Regions from separate parts of the Homo sapiens genome. Here region 1 is linked to region 2. The links come from fine-mapping of genetic effects on gene expression. A gene starts in region 2. The other region holds a variant in brackets. All regions are shown on one strand. Distances are from middle to middle.

Region 1 (4,385 bases), 190 kb after region 2:
AAACTGTTTAATATTTAGATTGTATAAACCTGTTGTTTTCAAAGTATGGGCCTAGACCGGCAGTGTCAGCATATCCCAGGGACTTGTTAAAAAATGCAAATATTGGCTGGGCATGGTGGTTCATGCCTATAATTTCAGAATTTTGGGAGGCTGAGGTGGAAGGATTGCTCGAAGTGAGGCATTCAAGACCAGCCTGTAGAATATCAGAAGACCCTGTTTTTACAAAACAGTAAAAAAATTATCCAGGCATGGTGGCTCATGCCTGTAGTCCCAGCTACGCTGGAGGCTAATGTGGGATAATCTGCTAGAGCATGGGAGTTTGAGGCTGCAGTGAGCTGTGATCATGCCACTGCACTCCAGCCTGGGTGACAGAGCAGGATTCTGTTTCAAAAAAAAAAAAAAAATTATGTACCATGTACAATGTGATGTTTTGATAAATGCATACATTGTGGGTTACATCAATATGCTAATATATCCATCACTCAATTCTTATTAATATTGAAATTAGAGTTATGCTGGATCAATGGTTTAATGAATTAGGGGAATTAGGGGATTTATTGACCTACACAAAGATATATCAATGCAAAACAATAACAGCAATGCCAATTGTCACTTGAAGGCTTGCTTTATGTTAAGCACTGGCTAAGCTGTACATGGAGTCGCTCAAAAACCCAGTGACGTGGGTACCATGATCATCGTCTTTGTTTTATAGATACTTAGTAAGTGCTGGGGTGAGGGTTTGAGCCCAGTTCTGCTGGACTCCAGAGCTCACAACCAGTGTGCTGGCTGCTTAGAGCAATCATCAAACGTTCAGACTGAGCCTAACTCAGGGCTGACTGCCAGGGTCTGGTATGAAAAGCAGCGTTCCTTCTGCCAAAGAGTTGCAGAGCTCACCTTCAGCCCAGCCAAACTTGTGCTTCTTTCCAGCTCTAGGGTTTTAATTCCTACTGAATTTTTGTCTTAGACCCCACAGATGAATCGAAAGATAGCTCCGGCCCTGCCAACTCAACTGCAGACCTGCTGAAACAAGGGGCAGGTGAGTGGTCACCTGAAACTGTACCCATGCCCAGGCCTCTCTTTCTGCCTTCCTGCCCTGACCCCTCCTGCACGTGCAGGCTGGAGGTCTCTCCAGGCCCAAATGTCTCTGGGAAGATCACATTTCTATGTGCAGATGCCTTGGCTCAAGGCTAGCCTGAAATTTATCTGCTACCTTCTCCCTGAAGAATGGATCTGGGTTAATGTCCTCACCCACGCCAGCTCCCATGACTCCCCCTTGGGTTGGTTTCTTCCAGCCTGCAATGTGCTCTTCGTCAACTCTGTGGACATGGAGTCACTCACTGGGCCACAGGCCATCTCTAAAGCCACATCTGAGACGTTGGCTGCAGACCCCACGCCAGCTGCCACCATCGTTCACTTCAAAGTCTCTGCCCAGGGAATCACTCTGACTGACAACCAGAGAAAGTAAGACTCCCCTGCCTGCTCCTCGGTGGGGTTCTCCTTCCTGTGACTCATCTATTCATCCGTGTACCCACACATTTACCACTTGATTGATTCCTTGCACCCAACTGCTCATCTACCTTCTCATCCATCTATCTTGCATCTACCTCCCATCTACCCAGCTACTTATCCATCCATCCATCCATGCACCCATCCATGCACCCATCCATGCACCCATCCATCCATCCATCCATCCATCCATGCACCTATCCATCCATCCATCCATCCATCCATCCATCCATCCATGCATCCATCCATGCACCTATCCATCCATCCATCCATGCATCCATCCATGCATCCATCCATCCATCCATCCATCCATCCATGCATCCATCCATCCATCCATCCATCCATCCATCCATCCATCCATGCATCCATCCATCCATCCATCCATCCATCCATCCATCCATGCATCCATCCATCCATCCATCCATCCATGCATCCATCCATCCATCCATCCATCCATCCATGCATCCATCCATGCACCTATCCATCCATCCATCCATGCATCCATCCATCCATCCATCCATCCATGCATCCATCCATCCATCCATCCATCCATCCATCCATGCATCCATCCATCCATCCATCCATCCATCCATCCATGCCTCCATCCCTGCATTTATTCATCCCTCATCTATCCCTTACCACCC[G/A]TTTTTCCCTTCATCCATCTGTATCTCCATTCATCTATCCATCCACCCATTCATCCATCCTTCTATGAGAATTTGCCAGCATTGGGTATACGGCTGTAAATACAACTGATAAAAAGGACCTGCTTTCTAGGAGCAGAGCCCGTCCACTTGGACTCTCTCCTAACAGTGTCCCTGGCCTCTTTGCTTCTTCTTCCAGCCCCTCCCCACATTTCCTATTCCTCAGTGCCAGTTTCTTCCTTCCCCAGCCCCTAGCATTTGGGATGATTCTATGGCACATCTGTCTCTGTACATTGCTTGGGTCACCAGTGTCAACAGCTCAGGCCATCTTGCTCATAAGAGAGAAGTTGTGTGGACCTGCGATAGCCACAGATGGTGGAAAGGTGGCCTGACCTGCTGGTGGAAGGAGGGGAAAAGCAGCCCCTTCAGCACTCATTCTCTGTTTATCTGATGTCTGTGCTGCAGGCTCTTTTTCAGACGCCACTACCCTCTCAACACTGTCACCTTCTGTGACCTGGATCCACAGGAAAGAAAGTAAGTCTCTTGTACACAGCTTCTCTCCCACACAGCTTTCTAACACTGACGTCTGTGTGGGTGCATGCATGTGCATGTGTGTGTGTGTGTGTGTGCATGTGCATACATTCTCCATTCAGCTGGAAGGTCTGCCCATGTGTGAGTAATCGTGTTGGGCATCTTTTGAGTCTTTCCCACTATAGATATGGAGACCCTCCCAGGGACTCAGTGCCCACTGCTACCCCCTCTGCCATGCCCTGACCTTGAATCTGCTTCTCCTCTCCATGATGGGGAGAGCCCCTCAGGAGGCAGGCTGCAGTGTTCTCTCGACCTTGAATGCATCTGTGTGATCTTGGGCAGCTCCTGTCCCTGGGGAATGGGGGAATGGGGGAATGAGGGGGGAATGGGGGGCAGCTCCTCTCCCCAGACCTTCCTGCAGAGGGTCTGGGCATGGGTGGGGCTGGGCTCTAGGGAGAAAGTACGATGATTTACCCTGAGCCCACTTTCTCTCCACAGGTGGATGAAAACAGAGGGTGGTGCCCCTGCTAAGTAAGTGTGACTTCTTACCCCTGCCCAGCAGGCTGGCCTTTGTACTTCACAGTGAGGGAAGCACGGGGCACATTTAGAAACCAGGGCTGGGGGTAGGGAAAGAGCAGCAAAAACCTTTGTGCCAAGGTCACTCAGCTTCCGAGTGAAGCTTGACCAGGCTTCCAGGCCTTTTGCCTTGTCCTGCCTCGAGGCCAGAGGCCCAGCGTCTGGTCCAGCTGCCTTCACTCTCCCAGGGTTAGAAGCAGCAGGGATGGCAGGAAGTGGACAGAAAACAGTCTTATTAGAAGCAATGGAAATGGGTCAGAGATTGCTTACATGATCTTTTCTGCCCCAATTCTAGCTGCCTTTATTTCTGCTCTTGCTTTTTTGGTGGGCTTTCCTGTGAGTCTTGTGGCCGAGCAAATCAGCCTTATCAGAATGTGGGAGCCCAGAAAGTCTGAATTCTGGGGATGGCCCTGGGACCTTCGGGTGGATTCCTCCATCCAGCAGACATGTCCTAGGGGCCTCCAAGGGACTCAGATCCTGCCTGGGTCTCTGACCCTGCCCTCAGGAGGCCCATTGGCACAGCAGATAAGACAGATGTCTAAATAGCACTAAGATGCTTCTGTGATTTTCAAACTGTATTCCAAGGATCCTAGCATCCTTGGATTGTACCTGATGTACAGAAGAGAGGGAAAGCTCTGCTGCTCCTTGCAGTTGTCTATCAGCAGTAACTAGGGTTTTTTCACAATCACAAAACCAAACAAAATATAGGCATAACCTGGGGTCTGAAGCTGACATGAGACTATCACCATGATCTGTCATCTACTTTTCACTTTGTCAGGATTATTCCAACAGCCCTATTATCCTCACTGATTGACTTTATAATAGGTAAATGTCGTGCTTTTGGATTGCTGTTTATAGCTGTAAAATACTGCTTTCACCTTTATATATGCAGACTTCATATAAGGTTGCTTTAGAAAAACAAAACGTTCAGTGTTAAAAAAATGACAGTTGCAAGGGAGGGAGAGGCAGCAAGAGAGTTCAGCTTACGTCTGGGGAGCTCATGCAGGAGAACACATCAGCACCTCAGAGAGGTGGAAAGAGCAGATATTTAAGGACGGGTCTTCAAAGACAGGTTCAATTTGGACAGGTCAAAATGAGAATGGGAGTAGGAGGGGCTATTTCAGGGGAGGG
Region 2 (4,385 bases):
TGAACTTGTCAGGGGACAAGGGCAGCCTGGCAGAGCTGGTGATAGTGGCTGAGGAGGGGCTCAGGGGCTCTCAGAGAGGCCTCCTGAAGACCACTCCCCTTTGCTTGCCTGGTGCTCCAGCCAGGGGAGACGGGAGGGTTTGCAGAGGTTTCTGTCTATGGACATCCCCAGCTGTGACTGCAGGGCCAACTGCATGTGGAACACTGGTTCATTTCAGCGTTGGCTAAAATGTCAGTGAAGCCCCAGGAGGCTTAGAGTAGGGGGTCCAGAGGGACATTGTGATCCTGGCAGGGAAGGACACTAGAGGCAGGATCTTTCCCAGCCCCAGAGCTCTGGAGGACTTGGAGAAGTATGGAGAGAGGACCCTGACTCCTCTACCGGAACAAAGACTCTTCACTCAGGTACCTGCTTTAGGAAGGGCTGGAAATTGACACTTCACTTCAGTGTCCTCCCCTGACTTCTCAGAACCACCAAACAATAGATGGTTAGTCCCTTGTGCTGTGGACAACCTGTGTATCTGAATACTGCAGTCTTTTTTTCAGATGAAGAGTCAGTGTTTCCCCTTCATTCTGGGGTTTCCCAGGTAGATGTCTTGGGTGGTCCCTGGGCTGGGAGTTGGCACAAGTGGCTGGGCAGATCCCTGTGAAAGAGGAGGCTGGTAGTTGCACGGTATGTGGTGCTGACAGACAGCGGCATGGCATGGCCTTGGGTGAGTGGGGGGGGGAGGCAGGGGATCTGTAACCCTTCGTGCATGTGGCCCCAGGGCATGTATAGCACAGTGTGCATAGGAGGCCAGGCAAGAGAACTTTTCTTGCTAAGTGACTCAGTCTAGGAACGAGGTCTCCAAGTGCCTACTCTGGGAGGGCTCTTATGTGTTGACGTGAGTTGGACTGTGTCCTTGTGTGTGTGTGTGTCCACAGGAGGGTGTGGGGCTGAGCCCTCCCTCCTTCTCCTGGACAGCTCCAAAGAACAGAGCGGGTGATTCACTGGCCCCCACCCACCCTCAGTTGGTCCAGCCAAGGCCAGAGCTCAAAGAGGAAGGGTTTTTTTTGGAGGGGAACGTGGTGGTTCCAGACAATGAAGGCCTGGGGCAGACTTTGCTGGATTCCCCCTTAGTGCTCCGTGGGAATACTTTTGGGTTTTGACCCAGCCTCCTTTCCACCCTCTAGACCCCCAACAATTGTCCCTGGGCAGAGGTGGGGGCGAGGGGAGGGGAGGGCTGGTGGGCAGGGGACACTGAGGGGAAGAAATAGGCCTGTGGAATGGTGGGAGGGGAGAACTGGGCCCAGGGAGGGGGAGAGGGGAGGAGGGGGAGGAAGTGGGGAAATGCAAACCAAATGTTGGCCCCGGGTACAGTCAAGAAAAACACACTCTCGCGGGAGCCTGGAGCGGGGCTCCCTTTCAGAAGGGCAGGAAAGGCTGGGACAGATGTTTGCAGGAAAGAAAGAAAGAAGGGGGAAAAAAAAAGAAATAGGAAAAAAATTGGAATGAAACCCACAGCCTGGGGGCAGGGCCATTCTTCCCCAGTCTCGGGCCCTATTTCTTCTGTGTTAAGGCCTGTCCTGGGCTCTGAGCTTGGCGCGTGGGCACCAGAGTCTGTCCCAGTCTGTGTGTGCAAATGCATGTGTGTTCCGAGGAGGCCAGGAAGGCAGGCACGGGTACTCAGAGAAGGGGAGGGGCCAAGGCACCCTGAGTGTGCTGATTGTGTGGGCCTGGGGCTGTCTGTTCATCCATCAGTGGTCTGGAGGGTTCCAGGAGTGAAGGCCCCCAGGCTGGTTTGCCAGGGGCGGGGGTCTGCAGTGAGGAGGGAGGACTCCAGGCCTACCAGCACCAGATCAGAAGACTGAGGAGCCTTGGTGGCACACAGGGGTTGTGTGTCCGGGGGTGGGGGGCACGGCCTGGGGGGGCCCTGCCTCTGGTAGCTTTCCCTTTTCCCTGTCCCCTTTACACCCCCTGCAAAGCAGGGTTCCTGACCCTCAAGGCCACCGGTGGAGCCTGGGAGGAGGGAGGAGAGAGGAGGCTGGGACGAGGGGTGGAGTGGGGGGAGGAGGAGGAGGAGGGAGGGTGAGCTGGAGGCAGCAGGGCGAGAGGCCCAGCAGATGCTGGCGGAGCCGGAGCAGCCGCGGACTCAGAGAGCCCTTCTGCCAGCGCCGCGGGGACTCTAGCTTCAGGGGCTCTTCACAGGCCCTGGGCGTGCCTCAGTGACGGGACCCAGCAAAGATGACGTGGATCTGTCTGTCCTGCATGCTCTGGGTAGGTCTGGCTGCTTTAGCTGCGACGTTACTCTTCCTCAAACCCCCCGCCCCCCACCGGCCCCTGCCACCTTATCCTTTTGCTGAGAGCCCGGGGTCGGGGGGTGTCAGTCTTGAAGGAGGGGCCTTTCTGTCTCTGACCTACAGAAGGACAGACTGACTTGAGCAACCCTCAGCCGGAAGACTTTCCCCACCAACAGGGCCCAGGCCCAGGGTCCCGGGTCAGTACATCCCCTGCCCCACCCCCCCACCCCCCAATGGAGTCCCAGAGCTGTAAGTGGAAGGAGGCCACAGAGAAGTTTGCTTCTCTTTAGAGCCTTTCCTCCCGACTTGCATCCTACAATGGGGTGAAAATTCTTCACCGCCCCCCCTCAGTTGCTGAGCCCAAGATCTTGAGGAGGAGGCAGTGGTGGGGCTGGGGAGCAAAGAATAGTAGTCCAAAATATTAAGTCTGGAAGAGCTGGGCTGTGGGAGAATTCTCAGAGTCCATCCCTTTTATTCCTTCTACACCCAGTTTCAGCTTCCACCCACTGCCATCCCTTCCTCCACAGCCCTCCCCTGCTACCAAGACCTCTCCATCCTGGAGGAGGGAGCCATGGCCCGCTCTTCCCCCTTTCTCTCTTGGCTCCAGGTTCAGGGAGGTGGGTTTCAGGATGGGGATGCCAGGGGGGCCAGCAGAGAGGCCTGGGGGCCACGTGGTGAAGGTTAAAAGTCTTAAGGCCAGACCTGGGCTGAGGCTCCTGGGTAAAGGGGGATGGGAGAGGGCTGCCTGCTGCAGAAGGGCTGGGGGTCAGAGGAGGAGAGGACCCCTTCCTCAGAGGGGCTCCTGTGGGGCTGTCTTGGCCAGGCAAAGGCATGCATGGGGTCAGGAGGGTGAGGAAGTCGTCCCTGGCTGAGGTTACTGTTGGGCTCTGAGAGAGTGATGGCTGGTTTGGGGGAGGGGGCTTCAGGGCTGTGATCCAGATGTGGCCTTTCCTGTCCCTTTCCTTGTTCTGGCCAGTCCTCGGGAGGGCCCTCTTGGCCCAGGCAAGCCCATGCTGGGGGCAGTTGTGGGAACACAAACTCGGGCAGCCAGGTGTCCTCTGGGCAAAGAAAGAAAGGGTGGGGGAGGGGGCCTGGAATGAGGCGGTTTGGGTGGCATGTTGGGCTGGGGTGCTGGGATGGATTGGATTAATAGATTGAGAGTGACTGGGGAGGCCTGCACACAGGATGCATTTGTGGTTTACTGGGCTGGTGTTGACATCTGGGAAATGGGAGCCTTGGCCAGGTTCGTCTCTGTGCTGAGGACAGAGGTAGGCAGGAGGGAGCTCTGCAGCAAGAAGGATGGCAGGTAGACGTCCAGGGGTGACACAAGAAGGATGGCAGGTAGACCTCCAGGGGTGACGAGCTGCTGTGACTGGAGAGAGGGCTCTATAGATCCCTTCAGCTGACTGATACTGGGAAAAGTGCCTCATCCTGGTGAGCCTCTGCTTTCCCGTTGGTGAAATGAGGATTGCAGAGAAACAGGGTACAGAGAGGTAGGGATGAAATTTTGTATCCAATTCCCCAGGGCAGTGCCTGGCAGGTAGAGTGCCCTATGGGTGTTATACCCTCCCTGAGAGTAAGGGGAAGAGTCTGGGGACCAAGGCAGCTGTGAGTGCTGCTTCCTTGAGTGTCTTTATTTTTATTTATTCATTTTTTTTTTAATTGAGATGGAGTCTCACTCTGTCACCCAGGCTGGAGTGCAATGGCATGATCTTGGCTCACTATAACCTCTACCTCCTGGGTCCAAGCAATTCTCCTGCCTCAGCCTCCCGAGTAGCTGGGACTACAAGTGCGTGCCAACATGTCCAGCTAATTTTTTATATTTTTAGTAGAGATGGGGTTTCATCGTGTTGGCCAGGCTGGCCTCGAACTCCTGACCTCAAGTGATCCTCCCGTCTCAGCCTCCCAAAGTGCTGGGATTATAGGTGTGAGCCACTGCGCCTGGCCTTGAGTGTCTTTAAGACTAGAAAAGCCTGTGTCCCTCCCCTGTCTCCTTTTCCTCTCCTCTCCTAGTCCCCATCCTTTCTAGGCTGGCTGTGATGCCCATGGCCAGGATGGGCCAGAGACTGGGGCAGTAGGGACTGGACAGAGGAAGCAGTCCTGGCACCA

Evidence for each region. PIP is the estimated chance that this variant, and not a neighbour inherited with it, causes the effect. A credible set is the group of variants that fine-mapping cannot tell apart.
Region 1: its variant is the best candidate, but not a certain one, in a credible set for the expression of TNS1 in whole blood (TOPMed, PIP 0.65).

Annotation. Positions count from the first base shown.
Region 1 is chr2:217,806,899-217,811,283 of GRCh38, reverse strand. It overlaps TNS1 (tensin 1), which reads left to right. Exons shown (of 33, transcript NM_001387777.1): 29 at 965-1,036; 30 at 1,293-1,461; 31 at 2,613-2,681; 32 at 3,177-3,209. Among named protein-coding and RNA genes, the nearest start is that of DIRC3, 19 kb to the right of the region's middle. The variant G/A (reference allele first, on the strand shown) is at 2,151.
Region 2 is chr2:218,000,708-218,005,092 of GRCh38, reverse strand. It overlaps TNS1 (tensin 1), which reads left to right and starts at 2,098. Exons shown (of 33, transcript NM_001387777.1): 1 at 2,098-2,253. The coding sequence starts at 2,221. RefSeq lists enhancers at 813-912, 2,653-3,153, 3,154-3,654.